Linked DNA regions of Homo sapiens: regions 2, 3 and 4 are each linked to region 1. Evidence: fine-mapped expression QTL. A gene starts in region 1. Each other region holds a variant in brackets. All regions are shown on one strand. Distances are from middle to middle.

What was found. PIP is the estimated chance that this variant, and not a neighbour inherited with it, causes the effect. A credible set is the group of variants that fine-mapping cannot tell apart.
Region 2: its variant is the best candidate, but not a certain one, in a credible set for the expression of BBS9 in whole blood (INTERVAL, PIP 0.81).
Region 3: its variant is the best candidate, but not a certain one, in a credible set for the expression of BBS9 in subcutaneous fat (FUSION, PIP 0.87).
Region 4: its variant is the best candidate, but not a certain one, in a credible set for the expression of BBS9 in testis (GTEx, PIP 0.80).

What each region holds. Positions count from the first base shown.
Region 1 is chr7:33,126,427-33,132,201 of GRCh38, forward strand. It overlaps BBS9 (Bardet-Biedl syndrome 9), which reads left to right and starts at 3,138. Exons shown (of 23, transcript NM_198428.3): 1 at 3,138-3,615. RefSeq lists enhancers at 2,551-2,600, 3,091-3,200 and a silencer at 2,741-3,040.
Region 2 is chr7:33,191,955-33,195,954 of GRCh38, forward strand. All of the region lies in intron 5 of BBS9 (Bardet-Biedl syndrome 9), which reads left to right. Among named protein-coding and RNA genes, the nearest start is that of BBS9, 64 kb to the left of the region's middle. The variant T/C (reference allele first, on the strand shown) is at 1,678.
Region 3 is chr7:33,702,593-33,708,367 of GRCh38, forward strand. No RefSeq gene overlaps it. Among named protein-coding and RNA genes, the nearest start is that of FLJ20712, 21 kb to the right of the region's middle. RefSeq lists an enhancer at 2,640-3,508. The variant C/T (reference allele first, on the strand shown) is at 2,399.
Region 4 is chr7:33,660,496-33,666,270 of GRCh38, forward strand. No RefSeq gene overlaps it. Among named protein-coding and RNA genes, the nearest start is that of FLJ20712, 63 kb to the right of the region's middle. The variant G/A (reference allele first, on the strand shown) is at 3,038.

The sequences.
Region 1 (5,775 bases):
CTGTATCTGATTAAATTCAAGTACCCTTTTCATCAGATTCGACCTCCAGGTTATCTAAATGAGCTCCCCAAAAGGAGAAACAATCACATTGCAGAAAGTTTTTCTTTACTTTTTTGGTACCTGGCCTAAGGAAGATTATACATTTTATCAACATAATTTCCTGTGTTGCTTTTATTAGATTTGATTTTTTTTTAACCTGAAGTTTAAAATGGTTAAGATAGTTTTAATGTAATTATTTGTATGGCTTTTTAAGCCTTTTGATTATCACTCTGGTTATATAAATGACTTATTTCACAAGTAACTTGTGATTCTGTATTGATACAGTGTTTTGAGCCCTTTAAAAACTTCCTCAAAATCAAATTCCAATTTAAGTTTTTTAAATGTAGAATTAACTTTGGAATTTTCCAGTTGGACTCCTGGAAAGCATTAAAACATATCTTTCTCATCTTTTAGAGGTATTAAATGATTTGGGTTATTTGGTAAATTTTATAAGAAATATTGTCAAACGATAACTGATACTAGATTTTTCTTTTATTTGCATTTATGGGAATATTGTTTATATGAATGTTTGAAAAATTATATAAGTCCATACAAGTATGCTGGGAATGATGGCTCATGCCTATAATCCCAACACTTTGGGAGGCTGAGGTCAGAGGATTACTTATAGCCAGGAATTTGTGTCCAGCTTGGGCAACAAAACAAGACCCTGTCTCTATTAAAACAAAACAAAACAAAACAAAAACAAAAAAAACCAAAAAAAAACCAAGCATGGTGGTACAAACGTGTAGTCCCAGCTACTTGAGAGGCTGAGGCAGAAGGATTGCTTGAGTCCAGGAGTTTGAGATTGCAGTCAGCTATGAATGTGCCACTGCACTCTAGCCTGGGCAATAGAGCAAGACCCCATCTTTAAAAAAAATTCGTACAAATGTATTATATTACCAGTCATAATTCTGGTTATCTTAAAATACTGTATATAATAGCAATAAATAAATGTTCTTCTCAGTTGTTAACTTCATCAGATTTTTAACCATGGCTATTTTAAGTTTTTGTCATCCATATTATTGTTTTGAATTCTTTTTTAAAAAACAGACTCCTGGAAAATATTCTAACAAGTACTCTTTTATTTTTATTTATTTATTTTTGAGACAATCTTGCTCTGATGCCCAGGCTGGGGTGCAGTGGCACGATCCTGGTTCATTGCAACCTCTGCCTCCCTGGTTCCAGTGATTCTCATGCCTCAGCCTCCTGAGTAGCTGGGATTACAGGCATGCGCTACCACGCTGGGTTAATTTTTTGTATTTTTAGTAGAGATGGGGTTTCACTATATTGGCCAGGCTTTTCTCCAACTCCTGGCCTCAAATGATCCTCCCGCCTTGGCCTCCCAAATTGCTGGGATTACCGGCATGAACCATTGTGCCTGGCCCTAAAATATACTCTTAGATTTGGGTTTCTAACAACTTGAAGATCAATGGACAATATAACAATTTCCAGAACTGTAATAAAAAAGTGGGTTCATGAAACTATTAATCAAGATCAGGCAGAACAAGAATTAATTACGTGAGTTTAACTAATGAAGACAATGTTTTTATGATATTATTTCAAATGTTGTTGGTTCTTTACTCAAATAGTTTTTTCCAGATTTAAGAAAATCTTGTCTTTTAAGCTATTTATAATTTACAGCAATTTGATAGAGTATACTTGTGTAAAAAAAGATAAAAACTTTTTTTCTCTTTACTTGATTCCTCCATAATTAGAAAACCATTTGTGAGTCTTCTTATGGTAATATGGTCATTTCAATAAGTCTAATAAAAATCTGCTCTCTCTGTATAGCAGAATACAATTGGAAACTGGTTATATTACCAAGGCTTTGACTGAAAGGTCATTTTTAAAAATATTGAGGCCGGACGCGGTGGCTCACGCCAGCAATCCCAGCACTTTGGGGGACTGAGGTGGGTGGATCGTTTGAACCCAGGAGTTCGAGAGCAACCTGGACATGGCGAAACTCCATCTCTACAAAAAATACAAAAATTAGCCAGGTGTGGTGGTCTGTGCCTGTAGTCCCAGCTTACTAGGAAGGCTAAGGTGGGAGAATCGTTTGAGCCCGGGAGGCTGAGGCTTCAGTGCTTCAGTGAGCAGTGATCCTGTCACTGCACTCCAGTCTAGGCGACCCTGTCAGGGAGACCCAGTCTCAGTTAAAAAAAAAAAAAAAACCCAAAACCCAAAAAACTAAAACTAGAATGGTATTTTCTACTGGGAATGTGGATTTGTGGATTGATGGTGAAATACTGGAAATTTAAAGCCTACACTAGAATCCATTGAAAAAAGCAAACAAGAAAAACTTCAAGGTTGGCTACATTGAATTTGAATGTAAAGATTAAAAAAAAATAAGTAAAAAACAAAAGAAGACATAGATCCAATCCCATATACCAGGAAATGCACTCTAAGGTATATACGGAAAATATATTTAACACATGTGTATCAGGACGCAGGCACAAGTAACTTCAAAGCAGCGCTGTTTCAAATAGTAAAAAAAGGAAAAACTGGAAACTGTTCAAAAGCTTCATCATCTCGATGATCTTGGTCTTCCGCCTCGCCTTCTTCTCCAAGGTGAATATGTACTGGGCCAGCACCACCCCCGCCACCAGGGCGCACACGCTGGCGCTCGCTACCGCGACCACCCTCGCCACGGTCGCGCGGTGCATGGACGGGGCCCTCATGAGTGTCCCGGCAGGAAAAAAACACCGCGATTGGGACTCTCAGAAGCGCAGGATCCCAGAGCACCATGGACAAGCCAGTGACGCCCCGCCCCCACTAGGCCCCACCCACACGCACCGAGGGGAGAGGGCGGTCACGCGGCCGGGGGGGCGTGGCCTGCCCCCGGAGCCCAGGCAGGAGGAGGGTCTTCCTTAAGGAACTGCTGCCAGGACAGGGCAGAGGATTGCAGTAATTATCACTCTCTGCTAATGAGGACCAGGCCGTGGTTCACTCGAGCCCCGCCCCAGTAGCAATCTAATTCCAACCGCGGCCCTCTCAGAAGTCGGTCCCCGCCTTTGCGCCTCAGCCTCTCTGGACTCCAGCCCCCAGAAGTCGGCGCGGCACGGCGTGACCTGCGCAGTGGCGTCCGTTGTAAGTGCTATGACAACAGGGCGAAGATGGCTCAGAGTTAGGCTGGAGAGGGGAGGTGTCCCTTCCGCTGCGGCCGTCGGGTTTCTGCTACATCCCATTCACCGCCTCCTCCATCCTTTCCTCCTCGGTGTGAGCAGCAGGACTTGCATTTGTTCTCGCCTGCCTAGTGTCTTCCAAGGGATAGATGCCGTTTCCTCTGCTGGTCTCTGGGGGTGACGGGGGGCGCAGGGGAGCTTCTTGGGGGAATCACTCCAACTCTGTGGAGCTGGTGGTGCTGCCTGGTGGGGCTCTCTCTTTGCCCGGGACGTGGAACAACTTTCAGCTGGAGGACGAGAGGGAATAGTGAAGCTAAAGGTTGCTTTTCTCTGCACCGTCCGTTCTTGCTCCCTCTGCTCCATCACTGGGACCTTGTCAGGCGTTCATAAAGCAAAATTTGCCGAACGAGGGTTCGCAGAAAGGTGGGGCAGAGCTCATCTGACGTGGCATCAGGTAAGATGGTATGTCTGTTGTTAAACTTCGGGTACATGAATACCCTTTCCATGTTTTATTTTGTGAACAAGATTCTCTAATGCAGTATAATGGTTTGGAGTCTGTAAGGTGATTGATTTCTTAGATGTTTGCACTGAAATAAACAAACACTAGGAGCACAAAGTGTATGAGATTCTGTGAGTACTTTTGAGAAAAAAGGGATGAGAATTTTTAAGGATTCCATTGAGGAATGTCACTTGGAGCATGAGCATCCTCCTGAGACACTTCAACAGGTCTGTGAGTAAATGGGCAAAGCAGTTCCCAGCCTACGACTGAAGTAGGATGCATGTACTAATACCCCCAATCCTTCTAGTAATAGGATTATTGTTTCTCCTCTTGTTACTTGGAGACCACAACAGTTTAGATGAGCTGCGCTGATTTTATCAGCACCTCCTGCCAGTCAAATCCTGCCTTTGACTTCAATTTCCTGGAGAAATGTATTTTTTTGGGTATCTCACTTTTACTTTAAAAATGAAACCGTATCTTACAGGTATACACATCTTACATGTCCTCATTGATAAACAACTTGAAAGATGCTGCAGGATAAGCTATGGGTCTTAAGTTGGCCAGCATTCAGAGAAAGATTTTCTAACTTATTAGCATTTTATAAAGAAAACAATTACTGAGATTTTTTTCATGAATATACGGAAGAATTAAAAAAAAAACTAGAAAACCCAGAAGTTTTTAAAGAAGAATTTTAAAAAACTTTATTTTGAAAATAAGTTACAAGTTATTTGTCAGAGTTTAAGGGATTTTTCCTTGTGTGTAATTGTCGTGGTTAAATTACAACTATACACTTATATTTATGGTACAACTTCTTGATAGAAATGCTCACTGAAGGGAAAAAATCCAACAGCAATAGTATATATAGTAATTTTAAAACTTTTACACCTTTTGAGGGATGTAGTAAGTCTTACGCTTTAGAATACTTTGAAATATTTTTGAAAATTATTAAAATACATGAAATTATTATAAAACATCCCTGCTGGTTAATAACATTTCCATTAGTGATTACTATCAGTCTTTGTGAGTCCCATTTAAAATTTCGGTCCAGAGGGTGAGTTTGGCATTCGTAATTGTGTCTTGCACAGAACACACTACCACCGTCTCTTTCAACTACCACTACTACCACTGTCTCTCCTACTAGCACTGTTTCTACTGTTGGGTTATTACTGACATCTATTGAGTACTTGCTATGGGTTGAGCCATTTTATCCTCCTCCACCCTAGAACAATTGAGATACTAGAGGATAAGGGACTTGTTTAAGATCATGTAGTGTAACGTGGTCAGAAAGTGCACCCAGAGCTGTCCTACTCCAAATTTTGTGTTATTTTGCCCTTTGAGTCTTTTGTTGAAAATTCCAACAGTGAGCCCTTGTATTATTGCCTTCAAAAGCAGTATACTTCTTTTGAACACTACATGCATTTGTCATCTTTCTTTGACTGGAAGACCTGATTTCTACTTTCTTAAATTTGGTGTGACACTGGCATAACCTGGAGAAAGCAAAGCTCTGAAAATGAACAACAGCTGCAAGGTCTGTTTCCAGAACTGACCTTCAAACCTGTATGTTTTTTCCACAGCATTCTTTGGGGTTATTGTTTTCACAGCTGATCATATTGTAGGACTAGGTCAATGAGGTGTTCAAGACCAGCCTGGGCAACATAGTGAGACCTCGTCTTTGCCGAGCATGGCAGAAAAAATAAAAATTATTAAAACTTTTTAAAATATTAAAAAAAGAACAATAGCAAATTAAATTCAGAAGGTCAGCAAAAAAAGGTCAGCCACCTCTTAAATGAAACCTAAATCTGAGTAAACTTGTTGTAGAAAAAAAAGTATTCAAAACAAAAAAGTGTCAAGTGAAGAGTATAGAAGAGAATTTCTGGAGTTTAGGGGATAAGGAGATTATCTCCCATTTATTATTCTAATAAGGCATTAGAAACTAATCTGTTATGCCTGTTTATAGGACTGCACCTGTTACAACCTTCAAATTATTGTCTTCTAATCATCCTTTAACAATTTAATCAAATTTATGACATACTTGCCTGTAGTTTGAACTTGTAGTGTTTAGAATTAGTGTGAATAGAGCTATTGCTTTTATAGTCTACATGGAGGGGCGTGTGC
Region 2 (4,000 bases), 65 kb after region 1:
AAAAAAAGTAAATGATTAAGCACCACCTCCCAAACGCAACCACTGAAAACATATATGTGGACAGTAGAATATAATCCAGAATGTTTCAACTTGAGCTAACCCAGAGTAATTTTAGAGTAATTTTACAGTTTCTGGAATTTAGTCATCTTACCACCTAAAGGGCCCAACCAGTGAAAAGCATGTTTATCATGTCAAGTCTGGTGCTGTATAATGGAATGCAAGCAAGTTATGACAATAAATGTTAAATGGAAAAGCCTTTACTTTATATGCATATATCTTGAAGTCAGTTGAGTAATTTATTCAATATTGGTGTTTATTTTGTATTAAAATATATGAATTTACTAGAAGACAGAAAAAAATCTGCGTGATTTGGGTCAAGCTGCAAATAGGAAAAGTGGCATATTATAAGATATTCCTAAATATTTAGTGATGATACATTTCACCTGCAATTCGTGCACTTGAAATCAAAACTTGTCTTTCCTTTAAGATGGCAAAAATATATAGAATAATATAAAAACTGTGCACATTTTATATTTGGGGAAAGACCTCTTGAACTGCACATAAGCTTCTGCTTATTCTTTCTAACTTGCTTTTCAGGTTACTTTTTCAGTCTATATACTTGGAATAATGCTCTTAAATGACTTTCGTTACATTAAACCTGAGATTTCCTGACACGTAGTAGTGTCCTAGTCCATTTGTGTTGCTATACCAAAACACCTGAGACTGGGTAATTTATAAAGAACAGACATTTATTTCTCACAGGTCTGGAGGCTGGGAAGTCCAAAATCAAGGTGCCAGCAGGTTCAGTGTGCAGCTAGGGCCTGTTCCTCATAGATGGCACCACCTTGGTGTCCTCACATGGCAGAAGAACAGAGGAGCAGAAGAGCAAAGGGCCTAAGCTACTTCCCTCCATTCTTTCACAAGGCACTAATCCATTCGTGAGGGTGAAGCTCTCATTACTTAATCACTTCCCAAAAGGCCACACCTCTTAATACCACTACAATGGGAATTAATTTTCAACACAGGAATTTTGGATGACGTTCAGACCATAGCAAGTAGTCTCTTACAGTCATTTTAGATCTATCCCTTTTACATCCTATCCATATTATGTGGATTTGGGCTGCTGTGACCCAGTGGTCACATGACCCACTGGTTGTTGGAGATTTGGTAAATGATACCATAACCATTTTTCACTTGTTAACAAACTGCCCCTCAATTATAATGTGGTATCTCCTATATATATCTATATATCTGTCTGTTAGGGTTTTATTTGGGTTCTTTTTTTTGTTGTTTTAGTTATTTAGCCTCCCATATCACTTTGTCACTGTGTGTTTGTTTTGTTTAATTCATATTCTTATTAAATTGCTCAGTAGTGTGAAATGTTTTTAGAGACCTTTGTTCTGATTCTTGGTTCTGTTTTTCTTCATCTGTCTTTCGCATATTGTCTTCCCCTGTCCCTCTCTCTGCCTTTTTTTTTTTTTTTTTTTGTAGTATGTTTGTGGGTTTGCCAGGCCAGCCTCTTTACCTTGCTTGAGCAATCAAGCTTAGCTTGGCCCACTCTGTTTGGGCCTGTTTGCTTTTTTATGGTGCTGGTGAATTTTTCTTGCCTTCTTTCCTACCCAATCAGAGAGGAGTTTGTTTTCCTTCCTGACGTACTGTTTTGACGGTTGGATATCA[T/C]GCAGTGTGTCTGCTTATCACCTATCTAGGGGCAGTGGAGAAGACATGGGGAGGAAGAAGGGTTGTCTGTAGCAGCCTTACTGTAGGATTTGGCTTCAACCCTCTCTTTTGTGATTTTGCTAAGCATCTTGAATTACTGTCACACTACCTGGTTGGTCTGTAACCTGTTATCTTGGAAGGCTGAGAGATATTCTTAGATTTTGGATCTTCTCTCTTACTATTCATCAGTTTTCCTTGAGTCAGTGCCATTTGTTGCTTCCCTTGTTTGTATTTCATTAGAAGCTGTTTCCATTCGCCACCCCCTACTTTTCTTCTGGTCCTCTGTGGGTGTGTGTGAGGCTTCACATGGCAATTCCTCCTCTCGCCTGTCTTCCACTTCTTCTACTCATCATAATTGCTGGAGATATTTATTTAGCTTGGCTGCTATTTTTTATGGTCTATGGCCTTTCCTGCTTTTTTCTTTTTGCAGAAAAAATACCAAAATGATAAAACCTGTATTTTTCTTTTCTGACCAGAAGGAATGTGGTAAAGGTAGAACTTATGGTATTATGGGCATTTCCATTTCTCTGGGCTGTCTACATCTCCCCTCCCCTTCCTGGATTTGTCTTCCTATAAGTTTGAGAGTTTTAATGAAATTTTCAGAATTTTGTTTATTCACAGCCTCACCCCTCCTTCTCCTTATGTGGAGTTTGGTCTTAGCAGCTTCACAAAATGCACCAAGTCCAGCCCTGAAGATTCTTGGAAACATCTGCTTTATGGTCACCATATTTTAAAGATTGTGGTATGAAATTGTGTTCTTTCTTTGGTTTCATTGCCATTGGTGTATGTTTGCTATTTTCTATAATTTACTTATTTATTTGTTTAATCCACGAAGTTACATTTTTTAAAGGGTCTTTAAAACTAATCCCAATGCTGGATTTGAAAAACGAATGTTCATCATAAAAATTCCTGTGGATTCAGCAGTTCAGTTGTTTGAATAATTCTGGTAGACTTATTTAGTACAGATTAATTTCATTGTATTTGATGTGAATATCTTTTTTCCAGATTGTTATTGGCTTTTAAACTGTGTAAGTGTTTTAATGTGGTCAGATCATTCTTTTCTTGTACACTTTATTTCTTCTAAGCTTAGAAACTTCTCTTCCATGCAGAATTTTGATGTTTCTGTTTCCTGGAGTTTGATTATCTAGCAGGAATTTTTATATTTATTTATAGAGAAGACTATGTGGAGAGAGAGCTAGTATTTATTCTCTTCTATATGTTGTGGTATTGCATTTAGCCCAGTGAGATAACATAATCACCATTTTTTCATACTGGGAGACTGGAGATCAGAGAGATAGAGGTGTTTCTCCAGACACATCCAGGCATAGCTATCTGATTTGAACCCAGAGCTATCTGATTCCAAAGCTCATGTTCTTCCTAATATAGTAACTGTTATTTAATTGCCTTGCTAGTTAGAGAGAAGGTCTATGTGTTCTGAGAAAGGAATGAGAGGGAGGTTTTTCTATAAGCTTCCTGAGGGCAGGGACTGTGTCTTTTGTTCATCACTGCATATCTAGTGTCTTTCACAGTCTTTGGCACATAGTGGGTGCTTAATTAGTATTTGTTGAATGATTGAACCAAAATAGACATTTGATTGGGCAGGGCTGATGTGTTATATACTTTAGACTTTGGGGTTATTTTTTTAGAACACGTTAGCTCAGTTCCATTATTCTAGCCAACTTCTAAGTTTTATTTTCCTCTTTAACAAACATGTTAAAGTATCTATTACAAGGCATGGGTTATTGTGGTCACTGTCTCCCATAGTGGTAAAGTGAGGGTGAGTAACTTGGGCCTCCTGGGTTCACCCTTAGTCACATTATTTCTCAATATGCTGGTGATGCAGCATATTGTATGTAAGTTATCTAGTAGAAATACACTGTCTTATCTAATTGCAACTGTGTTTCTATAGATTACTCTTCCTACTTTTTAGCTTGGAATGTGGTATTCAGAACTATCGAGTATTTGTGATAATGTCCACAAATCAAAATGTTTTTGTTTTAAAAAATTACTTAAATTCTCTAATATTTAGTGTAAAAGACACATCTTTTCATCTGTAACACTTTTCTCTCTGTGTCCTGTGAAAATTCATTTTCCTTTAATTCTTCCAATTTTTCTACTTTGATTGTTTTTTCAGCCAAATGGAAGTTCAGAAAAGTAGAATTTTTACCAAGGAAAATTTAATGTCAGAGTCTAGATATAATATCGGCATGGTATAGATTATAAGGTCTGACAGCACAGTAGTCTCACGTTTGTGACTGAGGTGGAAAAAAATACTGTATATAAA
Region 3 (5,775 bases), 580 kb after region 1:
GCCTGGCTTCTGCCCAGCGTGTGGGTGCCCCATATGTTTGCCAAATGAACTGGACTGAAACAATATCTTCTAATACTAAGAGTGATCTAGTTTCTCTAGAAGACTGCAGATGTCAGGAAAACATTGTGGGTAGCTGTATTAGGTTTCCATTGCTGCCACAGTGAGTTACTACCAATTTAGCAGCTGAAAATAATACCCATTTATTATCTTGCAGTTGTGTGGGTTAGAAGTGTGAATTGGTCTCACAAGCTAAAATCAAGGTGTGGGCAGGGCTGCACAAGGAGGCAGGGGCCCTTGTGGAAAATGTGCTTCCAGTTTCATTCAAGTGGTTGTAGGACTGAGGTCCCCACTTCATTCCCGGCTGTTGATCAGGGTCATTGTCAGCTTCCAGAGGCTGCCTGCATTATTTGAGTCATTGCCCTTTTCCTCTTTCTTCAAAGCCAACAGTATGGGTTGAGTCTTTCTCATGTTTCACATCTCTCTGACCTCCCGTTAGCTCATCTGTCCCCTGCCTCCCTCTTCCACCACCTTCTTCTGGTTCCCTCTTTTGCCTTCCTCTTCTGCTTCTCAGGACCCAAGTGATTGCGTAGGGTCCAACTGGATGATTCAGGATAATCTCCCTATTTTAAAGTCAGCTGACCAGTAACCTTAATTCATCTGCAAAGTCCCTTCATAGCATCACCTAGATTTGTGTTGAATTGAATGACTGGTGGGTAAAAATCTTGGGGACATCTTTAGAATTCTGCCTACTACAGTAGTGATTTTTAGAGAGATCACGGAACCCCTTTGCGGACAGTAAGTTGCTAGAGGTCAGGGCTAGGGTCAACCGCAGTAGATGAATGTTTTGAAATCATTATTTTAGTCGTGGCCATAGATGTCTACAGATGACAGACCCTGTGGCTAATAGAGCAGATCTGGGGAGAATAGACTCATGTTTATCCTGGGCTTTACAGTTTACAAACAGCTTTTTTAGAATTGGCTTAGATGTTTGAATACCGGGCTGTATGCAGAGGGCAGGCAGGGGATCTCAGAGGTGCCTCAGGAATTGCTGAAAGGTGGGGAGTGTTTAAATACCGGAGGGGTTAAACTGGCAGGCACACTCTTCCTCAGCCCTAAATCTGCTTTGATGTGTTTTGGATAATGGACTCCAGTACAAAAGACTTCTGAGGATACATCAGAAAATCTTTTTTTTGCTCTAGTGCAATCTCATTTTGACCCTCAAATACTATGCTTCAGCTTGATTATTTTTTAAAGACAGCAGACATGGCACTGAACATCTTGGGTTTTTCCTAAAAATCATAGTATGGTACCATGAAGTGTATTCAAAATGATGTGCCTATGCTGAATGCAACTGCAAAAGAATTTCCCACACACATAGATAACTCTGTGTGTGTGTGTGTGTGTGTGTGTGTGTGTGTGTGTGTGTGTGTGTGGAGACCTCCTTAACATAAGCCTAAGTCCCATATAGGAGTCCACTTTGAAGAGGATGAGACTCATTTGGATGGATATACTTTTCTACCATATTTGTTAGGAAAAAAGTCACCTAATTTTTACCATCACGACTCATATTTAGGTTTTGATAGATTTAATAAAGGCCTTAAGATCACTGGAAAAAGGACAAAGAGGAAATGGAAAATACTCTGGGTCCATGGCATGTTATCAACCAAAATATTAAAGTTGTACATTGCTAAGCTTTCAGACTTTTCTCTTGCATTTGGAAAAGGATGGGTTTTCCTTCTGGCTGCAGAATTTACAGTATTATTGAAGCTAGCTGTTATTTCAGTGAGAACTCTGCTCTCTATAAGAAAAGCATTAGCAGTGAGAAGTTAGTGAAGTAGTTGATTTGGGGGTATTTCCTAGAGAGAAAATAACACTTTTTTTCCCCTTGAAGTGTCTTTTCTTCCCTTGAAGTGTTCCTGGTGCGGTCTTGCTTTATCTGGGGGGTGGGGTGCTGGAGAAGGAGGGGTAACTTGATTGTAGGGGGATGTCAGGCCAGGGAAATGGATGGGAGAAGAGCCGGCTTAGGATGCTGCTTCTAGTCCCCCTCCCCTCGCTGTGCACACACAGACACATGCACATCAGTGGTCAGTTTAGCTGCAATATTCACAGCACATTTGCTGGGGTTCAATTGATCACTGCACACAAGAGATAGAGTCAGCAAGGATGTGGTGCGGAGAGGCCAGGGGCTTGGGGGCTTCCGCTCTCACACATCTTCAAGCCCCATTTTGAAATGGTTTGAATTAATGACACTTATTCAGACAGACAAAGGAGGTAAATGGAAATATTAGACAAGGCTTTGCACCTACTTTGCTCAACATTTCCCGTCACCTTGAGTGCTGGAAACACTCCACAGTCTTGCTCAGCCTGACCCAGGAGCCGCATGAGCTCACATGCTGCT[C/T]GCAGACTAAAGCCAAGGACCCTATTAGCGGAGGTTCACTAGACCAGTCTCAGGGACCTGAGCCCCTGTCCTCCAGCATCAGGGCTGCCCTCTTTGGGGGTGCCAATCCTCTCACCGATTTTATCATTTTTGTGCTATTTTGCTGGCAGTGCATGGAGTAAGGGCACCATTGAAAAACTCATACCAAGTCGCATTTGAGTTTGCTGGCTGGGCTGCCAAGCATCACCAAGCCAACAAAGTGAGGGCTAGGAGTCAGAGCTCGGCTTGAATCCTCACTTTGCCATTCACTATGCGTGTGACTTTCATCAAGCCACTTACACACTCTGAATTCATCAGCCACACAGGATCCTGTGAGGCTTCACCGAGACAAGCTGCGTCAAATGCGTGTAGGAGCATGTGCTCCCGAGTCCTTCTGCCTTTGTCTTCCTGGTCCACCTCTGCTTCCTTACCAGATAAGCTGGAGCACAGGTCGTGGGACCCTACAGGGAAGCAGAATCTCTAGAGCTACTTGATCTGGCAGGATATGCTCATTTGCAGAGTTTGAACTTGACATTGATGGCCTGCAAAGCCATTCTTTAGCCAAGCCTAGGAATTTGTTCCCAGGGAAGCAGCTGGCTTTGTTTTTTTGTTTGTTTGTTTGTTTTTCCCTGCTGGGCTGTGAAAAGCTATCCCATTTCACCCTCCTTCCACAGGTAAGGGGCAAGAGTCCCCAGGGTAGGCAGGTGGGGAACAAAGGATTGCAGTACAGATTGAGTGGATGCAGGGCCCCTTTGTTTCATGGCCTACTGTGTGAAGGGAGTGAATGGGAGGCAAAGGCCTGCCAATGAGTAGATTAATTTCACCCTGTCTGCTCCTAGGACTTGCTGTGGGAAACTGCTCTGGCTTCCTGTGTGACACCTCTCTTGCCTATTTTGTGTACACTGGGGAGTAGAATAGAGCATGATCCGGAGTTGGATGGCCCAGGTTCCAATCCAGGCCTCTTGTAGTTCCTGGCTGTATGATCTTGGGCAAGTTACTCAACCACTCTGTGCTTAAGTTTTCACATCTGCTAAATCGAGATAGTAATACAATGCCTGCCTCAGTGTGGTTACAGAGATTACATGAGCAGTATTTAACTTAGTAAGTATTCAATATGTGTTGACATTTTTATTTGTTATTTATCTGTGGCATCATGTCTCCTTAGATTCTAATTTATGCAATTAAAAAATGCATATAGTAGACTTTCTATGCAAACTGATAGTTTTGCAATATCGACAGGTTATTGATTTGGTTCCAGCACCCATTGTCAGGACTGTGAATGAACAAATCTGCTAAGCCTTGATTCCCCAAGACCTGCTCTGTTCACATGTCAGGTGAACCTTTGGCTGACTTTCCCAAGACTGAGCTATAAAACTCCTTTTACAGACTGAAAGATTTTTATTCTGAAAATATTATTTTCACTTTCCTTTCCACAGGGGGTTTACTCTTCTCTAGTGGGCCAATCTGAGTTTTCTTTCAGATTCCATGTTTTTAGTGTAAATGTTCTGAGGGGAAAAGTATACGGTCAGATGAAAGAGCACAGGCTGAGTTCTGGGTGTGTGTATGTTAGTGGAGGTTTTCAAATGCAAATATTTGATAAAAGTATGTGGTTTTGTTTATTTTATGTATATCTATATATTAGAAATGTTAACTTGAACTGAACCGTTTAACACGCTTAATCCGAGGCAGATGGAATGGTCAGTGAATTATTTTTGTAAACCACTTCTGTTGGCATTCAGAGCTTCCTTTCGTATTGATTCCATTCTGGCCGACCACTCGAGGTTTCACCAAAATAAGCTGGTGCCAGACTCCACTTCAATGACATATGTGTTTGTTCCCCTGAAACACAACACAATTGCACATTTCTCCAGCCCATAGAACTGCTTTTGTAACTAATTAGACCAGACAGGGTGCTGCGGAGAAACCACGGACACAGCACTGCATCCTGATGGATATTCATACGGGCTGGTCCTTTAACAAAGTGAACAATTGCCCAAATAATTATTTCCTGCTGTGGACTCCCTCTTTTTTTAATGCTTGGTTTGTTAGATCCTATTTTTCTTCCTACTTTCCTGTTGACTGCAGCTAAATTGAATTTGGTCCAACCCATCTCACACTGGGTCAGCAAAAATGCTTCACTCTGTTGGGGGAAAGGAGTTAACCCTTTGAATGCTGCCTTGGTAAAGGTAAATGAGGAATGAGATAGAAATGGAATATGTTATATTAGGATCATGATCATTTTTGGTGAGGAATGTTTGTCACGTTTCATGTTGCTACTCAGAATACAGAGTTAGGGAAAGGTGAGCAAAGTATCACAAAGAAGGAGGGTATCTTTAACCAAAGGGCTTCTCTAGAAATGCAGTATATATTTCATGGGAAGGGCGGGTTGTCAGCAAAGTTTAGGACAACTAGAGTAATCACCCTTGGGTAGCAAAATTAATAGAGTGGCCTGAATTAAAAAGGGGAGGGAAGGCAGCTTTAATTCATATCACATCTTAAAGCAATTAGTGGTGGGAGTACACTTCTCATTTGTGGTTTTTCAGTGCTTGAAGGCTGAGAGGTGTTGTGTTGCTGAGATCATATGGCTGGGTCTGTTCAGTGCACAAGATCCCTCGTTGTCAAACCCAGGAAAGAGAAACAGCTGTGAGAAATGTTCTGGCCAACATCAGCAAGTGTGATTTTGTTGGGTGTGTTGTGGCTTCTGTCTTCTATTGTGTGAAAACTGTCCCCATCCGGTAAGAGTTTATGGGACTTGCTGTAAGCAGAGATGGTGTCAGAGGCTGTACTTGGCTGTCAGTCCCAGCTGGCCCAGAAATGTAGCTGATGTTTCTGCAGGTGGAATGTCTTGGTCAAAGCATTTTCCTTTTTGATGGAGAGTCTCAAATTTCCCTCCTTGGGTATTGCATGAAGTTTTACTTCCACTTGCAATATATGAGGCTACCTGTTTCCCCTAGCCACTCCACAGAAGCACGTAATCACACTTTAACATTTTTACCAATATGTATTTTAAAAATGGTCTCTCAGTTTTGTTTTAATATGAATTTCTCTTATAAGTGAGATAAACATCTGTTCATATGTTCCTGAGCCATATGTAATTTATTTCTGAACCATATCATCATATCTTTTGCTAACTTTTCCACTGGATTTTTTTTCTCTGTATTTACAAAAGCTCTTTTAATATATCTTATACATATGTAAGGATATTAGCCCTTGATTTATTGTGTAAATTTCACATTTTTCCCAATTTGTTGTCAAACTTTAGACATTTCTTATAGTGTTTTTTTTTTTGCTGTGCAAAGTTTTTTTAATATATAAAGTTTATGTGGTAGAATTCATCTGTACTTTTTTATGGCTTTTGG
Region 4 (5,775 bases), 530 kb after region 1:
AGGCCAGTGGAAGTGAGGTGTCCTGAAGCTTTGGCTTCATTCATTTTATAGTAATAACGTTTTAAGCCTCTTTGGTGCTTTACGTTGGATTCTTTCTCCCTTCCCTACGTCCTCCAAAGATACAATGTGAGTTGTGCAGATAAGATGGTAAAAGCCCACTAAGCACTGAGCTGGGAGACTTTGCCATTTTTCCAACTGCATAACGACCTGCTGCAGGTGGGAGAGGCCGCAGCTGGTCTTCCCTTTTCACCTGAAGTCCTGACCTCTCCCAGTTTTCACACAGGCCCTGCTTCTGGGGGATGGTGCTGGTTTCTTTGCTGAGATGTTGGCCTGTTATGTTTTCCTTCACCATATGTTTCCGCAAATGTATTGTCTTTATTATGTCTGAATCCACAGTAGCTCTTTAAAATAATGCTTTTCCCCTTCTGTTGATAAAAGCAGTTGTGCATATGGAAGAAAATTTAGAAAGTGCAGAAAATATAAAGAAAATAAAAGCATCCTATAAATCATTAAAATTAGTATCACTGATTAACAATTTGATCTATGTATTTCCTTCTAATCATTTTCTGGGATGTGTGTGTGTGTGTTTGTGTGTGTGTGTGTGTGTGTGTGTGTGTGTTGTATCAAGTTTTCTGTCCTTTATCTCTTGTTTTATTTAACATATATCATACTTTCTCTGTCATTAAATATTTTTTGATACAGGTATTTTTTCATGACTATATAATATTCTACCCTATGACTGTATCATAATTTATAGAAACATTTCTCTTGTTAGATGTTATATTTACTCCCTGCCCCCCACATTTATAAATAATGCTGTAATGAACATCCTTGTACCTAATGCTTTGACCACATCTTGATTATTTTCTTAAAATGAATTCCAAGAATTGGACTTCTGGGCCAAATATTGAACATTTAAGGTACTTGATCCCAATAACAAAATTAGCTTCCAGGCTACAACGTAATTTAAATTTGATTCCTGAAGTCATCTTGGTGTTAAGAGGAGGAATGTAAACCCATGATGTTTAATGAGAAAATCAGATCTCAACTGAAATAGCCATGATTAACGTACAACATATTAAACTTTCCCGCCAGGAACGTGTAATGTTTGTTCTGAAGGTGGCTTTAGACACTTCCTCATTTTATGTGAGTCTAAACTGAAGCCTCTAGAGGCAAAATACTCACCTGAGGTTGCACAGTGGATTGGTGCAGGGATGAGATGAGAACCACTGATGCTAATGTCAGCAGAATATTGCTTGATTTTAAAATTGATCACACTCTATATTTTGTGTGGTTTTCAGCTTTATCTGTTTGAACGTAGCAATCCCATAAAATAGGAAAGGCAAGAGTTATGATGGCCATTTTACAAATGGGAAAACTGAGGCCCCAAGACCCTGAGAGCTTTTTGTGTAGCCCTACAGGTAGTGTGTTTGAGCCTGCAGGCAGGCTGGAATCCTCTGTTCCATGATGCCAGCATCTGTGGTTTTCTGACTTTTTCATAATCGCCATTCTGATTGGCATGAGATGATATCTCATTGTGGTTTTGATTTGCATGTCTCTAACGATCAGTGATGTTGAGCTTTTTTTCATATGTATGTTGGCTGCATGAATGTCTTCTTTTGAGAAATGTCTATCCACATCCTTTTCCTATTTTGTAATGGGGTTTTTTTTTTTTTTTTGTAAATTGGTTTAAGTTCCTTGTAGATTCTGGATATTAGACCTTTGTCAGATGGATAGATTGCAAGAATTTCCTCCCATTCTGTTCACTCTGATGATAGTTTATTTTGCTGTGCAGAAGCTTTTAATTAGATCCCATTTGTCAATTTTTGCTTTTCCATGGTATTTTAAAAAAAATCCTCAAATGATTCCAGTGTGCGGCCAGCGTACAGAACATGGCACTGCACCTAAGATAGCTTAAGAATTCACCTCTCCTGCCACCTCTGATCATTTTGTAGTCTTGCCTGGAGCCTAGTGTTAAGAAGGATGCTGATGCCTTCTTGTCTTAGTGAGAAAGTGAGCTGGGACTCATTTTCTATAATGTCTGCCATGAACTAGACTGGGGAGGGACATCAAAACTGTCCTTGCTATCTTGGCATTACATCATATTGCCATTCTGTTTAGTTTCTAGAAAGTATATTCTCACTAAAAACACATAAAGACAAGGGCACAAACAGGGTTAGTGTGAGGGTATGACTGACAACCAGTCATGAAAGTCCTAAAGCAACTTGCTATGGCCTGCTAAGAATTTCAGGAATATTTTCCTAGCAGTGGTTATCTTCAAGACAAATATGGATCAGGCACAGTATTGCCAGGTTATATTTTGGGATATGTCTCCACAGAACTCATGAACTGACCTTTTCTTTTGCTAGGCTTGGAATTGGTTCGGAAACCTTCCAAGATATATTCTAAACAAAATGGAAAAGTAAAGACAGAAAGCTGAGTGTGGCTTTCGGGGACTTGTATTAGTTTGCTAGGGTGATCATAATAAAATATCACAGACTTGTGGCTTCAACGACAGGACTTTTCTCACAGTTCTGCAAGCTGGAAGCCCAATGTCAAGGTGTCAGCAGAGCTGGTTTCTTCTGAGGCCTCTTTCCTCAGCTTGCAGCTGTCTGTCTTCTCGCTGTGTCCTCACGTAGGCTTTCCTCTGTGTGTATGCAACCCTGGTATCTCTTTGTGTGTCTGAATTTCCTCTTCTTATAGGGACACCAGTCAGGTTGGAATACAGCTCACCCTAATGAACTAATTTTAACTCACCTCTTTAAAGAGTCTATCTCTGTATACATTCCCATTCTGAGCCACTGAGGGTTAGGGCTTCAATATGTGAATTTTAGGGAGACATAGTTCAGCCTACATAAAGATCCTACCTCTATAAACATTCCCATTCTGAGCCACTGAGGTTTAGGGCTTCAATATGCGAATTTTAGAGAGACATAGTTCAGCCTACAATAGGCCCTTGTGAAGTGTTGAAAACTAATGCCTGTCCTTGTTTATTAGGGGCTCAGGCTTTGGGTTGGGATGGTCTCAACCAGGGGCA[G/A]TTTATCCCCCCAGGGCATATTTGGCAATGTCTGGAGACATATTTGTTTGTCATAATTAGGATTAGGGGTTGCTAATAACATCTGGTGAATAGAGACCAGGGGTGCTGCTAAATGTCCCACAATGCACAGCACAGCCCCTCTGCCCCCAGTAACAGAGAATTATCAGGGCCACAATGTCCCTTGACATTTTGCTGAGGTGGAGAAATCCTGGGCTAAATAGACTGCAGTTTGAATCCCTGTGATGATACCTAATACAGGTGTGACTTTATAATATACTCCATCTTTATAAACACCCTCATCTGTAGAGTCCTCACAGTGGGTTAAATGAGATAATCTATTACAGCTTTTAGGACATAGCCTGACTCCTGGGAAGCTCTCAACAACCTTTAAGTGCATTATAGATTTCTCACCCGCAGATGCCTCACTTGAGAGCTCAGGTTGGAATGAGCATTAGGAAGTATCCAGCACGAGGAAAGAGGGACGACCCATCTGGGCACAGGGAAGTAATTGGGGCCACAAGAAGGCAAAGGCCACGACCTACTGAAATATATTGAATTTCATATCTTCTTTGGATGTTTTCCAGTTTTAAATAAGTCTACTTCATTGGGTGAAATATGGCTTGAATTAGGGACAGCCCTTTCTCTGAATGTAAAAGGTTACATCACGCATTTCCAGTATCTGTGCAGCTTGCTGCCTCTTCCTTGAAATCATTTAGAGAGAGGGTTGTTGGGCACATCAGATTTCTTGCTCACTGTGTCAGGTCCAGAAGGTCCTGGAGGAAAAGGGAGAGACAGAGGAGTAGAAAACATTTGTTCAAGCAGGGAGGACTGTTTGACACACACCAACATCCCCGGAGTTTTCTGTTAATTAAAAAAGTCATCAGAATGCATTTGCATATGAGATTCTATGTTGCATTTGTTCAGAAAGATTGACTTGAACTATAAAGTAGCTTTGTCCTCTTTCATTAACTTCCTTCACCCTACAAAGTGTGAACCAGCAGCATTTGCTTCCTGGGGGTGGGGTTGGGGGGAGCTGGTGAGAAAGGCAGAATCTCGGGCTCCACTCGGGGACCTGGGGAGGCAGGACCTGCATTCCAATAAGTTGGCAAGTGATGCTTCTGCAGGGAGAGAAGAGCTGCTCTAGGCTGTGCACCATTTCTCTCTCTCCCCTTTACTGGAATCTTTTCTATCATCACTCTCGTTTAATGGCTTCATGAATTTCGTACATTGTGTTTCTTATTGTGGGCCACCTCAAATCCTTTTTGGTCCTTGATGTTGTATAATATTTAGTCAACGTTAAGAACAAACTGTCCTCCAAACCAGGGTTTGATAGTCCGGGCATTTTCATATGTATTAGAGAAAACATTTTAATAACAGCTTCATGAAGGAGAAAGAGGAGCCATAAGTAGTTTTAACTCAATTTAGGGTTAATAAGTAACCACTATTAATTGAGCATCTACTGTGTATTAGCCCTGGATATGCAGACTCACTCAGTCCTCACAAAATTCTATGAAGTGGGTGTTTTTATCTCCATTTTATAGGTTAGGAATGGAGGCTCAGGAAGGTCATATGCCTTGAATGAGGGGGGGCATTGCTAAGCGGTGGCTTCAAGGGCTTCCCTAGCTCCTATCACCAGCACCAAAACACCCACTAAAATTAATCTAATAAGTAATTATACAATTGAGATAGTTTTGCATACAGTTGTGCATAATAAATGAAATTGTGCTTGCTCTACAAATGTGCTTCAAGACACCCCCTCTCTTTCAACTTGCTCATTCTCCCACTGCCCTTCCAAAGCGAACCCTTTGAGTGACGCTCCACCCAGGGCCACTTAGCTCCACCACAGTGACGCCAAAGTTTCGGCTGGAAACTAAGGAAGTGAAAGTTCTAAGTTGCTTGCCAAGTGCTTTATATTTTTTTAATTTTTAAAATTTTTGTACTTAGTAAATTCGAACCAGTGTCAGTAGCCAAATGCCTTAAAATCAGGAAGGGCTTGGGAAGTTTTCTACAGCATATGACACACCTTCCAAGGATCCCCCTCAACTTGCTAGTCTGTAGTCATCTCCCGTCTGGTTTCTTTAAACAGGAATGTGATTGTCTATCCTGGAGCATGTTGCTCCCCTTTGATTCTAATTTTAAAAGCCCATATGGCGCTGGTGTGTGGGTCTGTCATCTTTCCATCATGCTCTGGGCAGGGTGGAGGGTCCAGTATGAGTTTCTGTGACTAAAGGAGGACTTACAAGACCTAGAGTAGAAGTCAAGATCTCTAACTGTGGAGCTGTGGCAAGGAATTACAAGAAAAGCCTGGGCTATAGGGTCAACCAAGTTAGAATCTTGGTTTTGTCACCTGCTGGAAACCAGGGCTTGGGCAAGTGAGCTCATCTCATTGAACGTTTCGTTTCTAGATAATGAACATCTCAGACTTTTTAAAATTTTGAAATATTTAATTGATGAATAAGAACTGAATATATTCAAGGTATACAATGCAATGATTTTATTTAAGTATATAATGTATAATGATTATCACTATCAGAATAATTAAAACATTCTTCACCACCCATGATGTACATTAGATCCCAGAACTTATTCATCTTATAACTGAAGGTTTGTACAGTTTGATCAGCGTCTCCCCATTTCCCTCATCCCCAGCCTTTAGTAACCACCATTTTACCCTCCTTCTATGAGTTTGAGTTTTTTAGATTCCACATGTGAGATAATGCAGTATTTGTCTTTCTGTG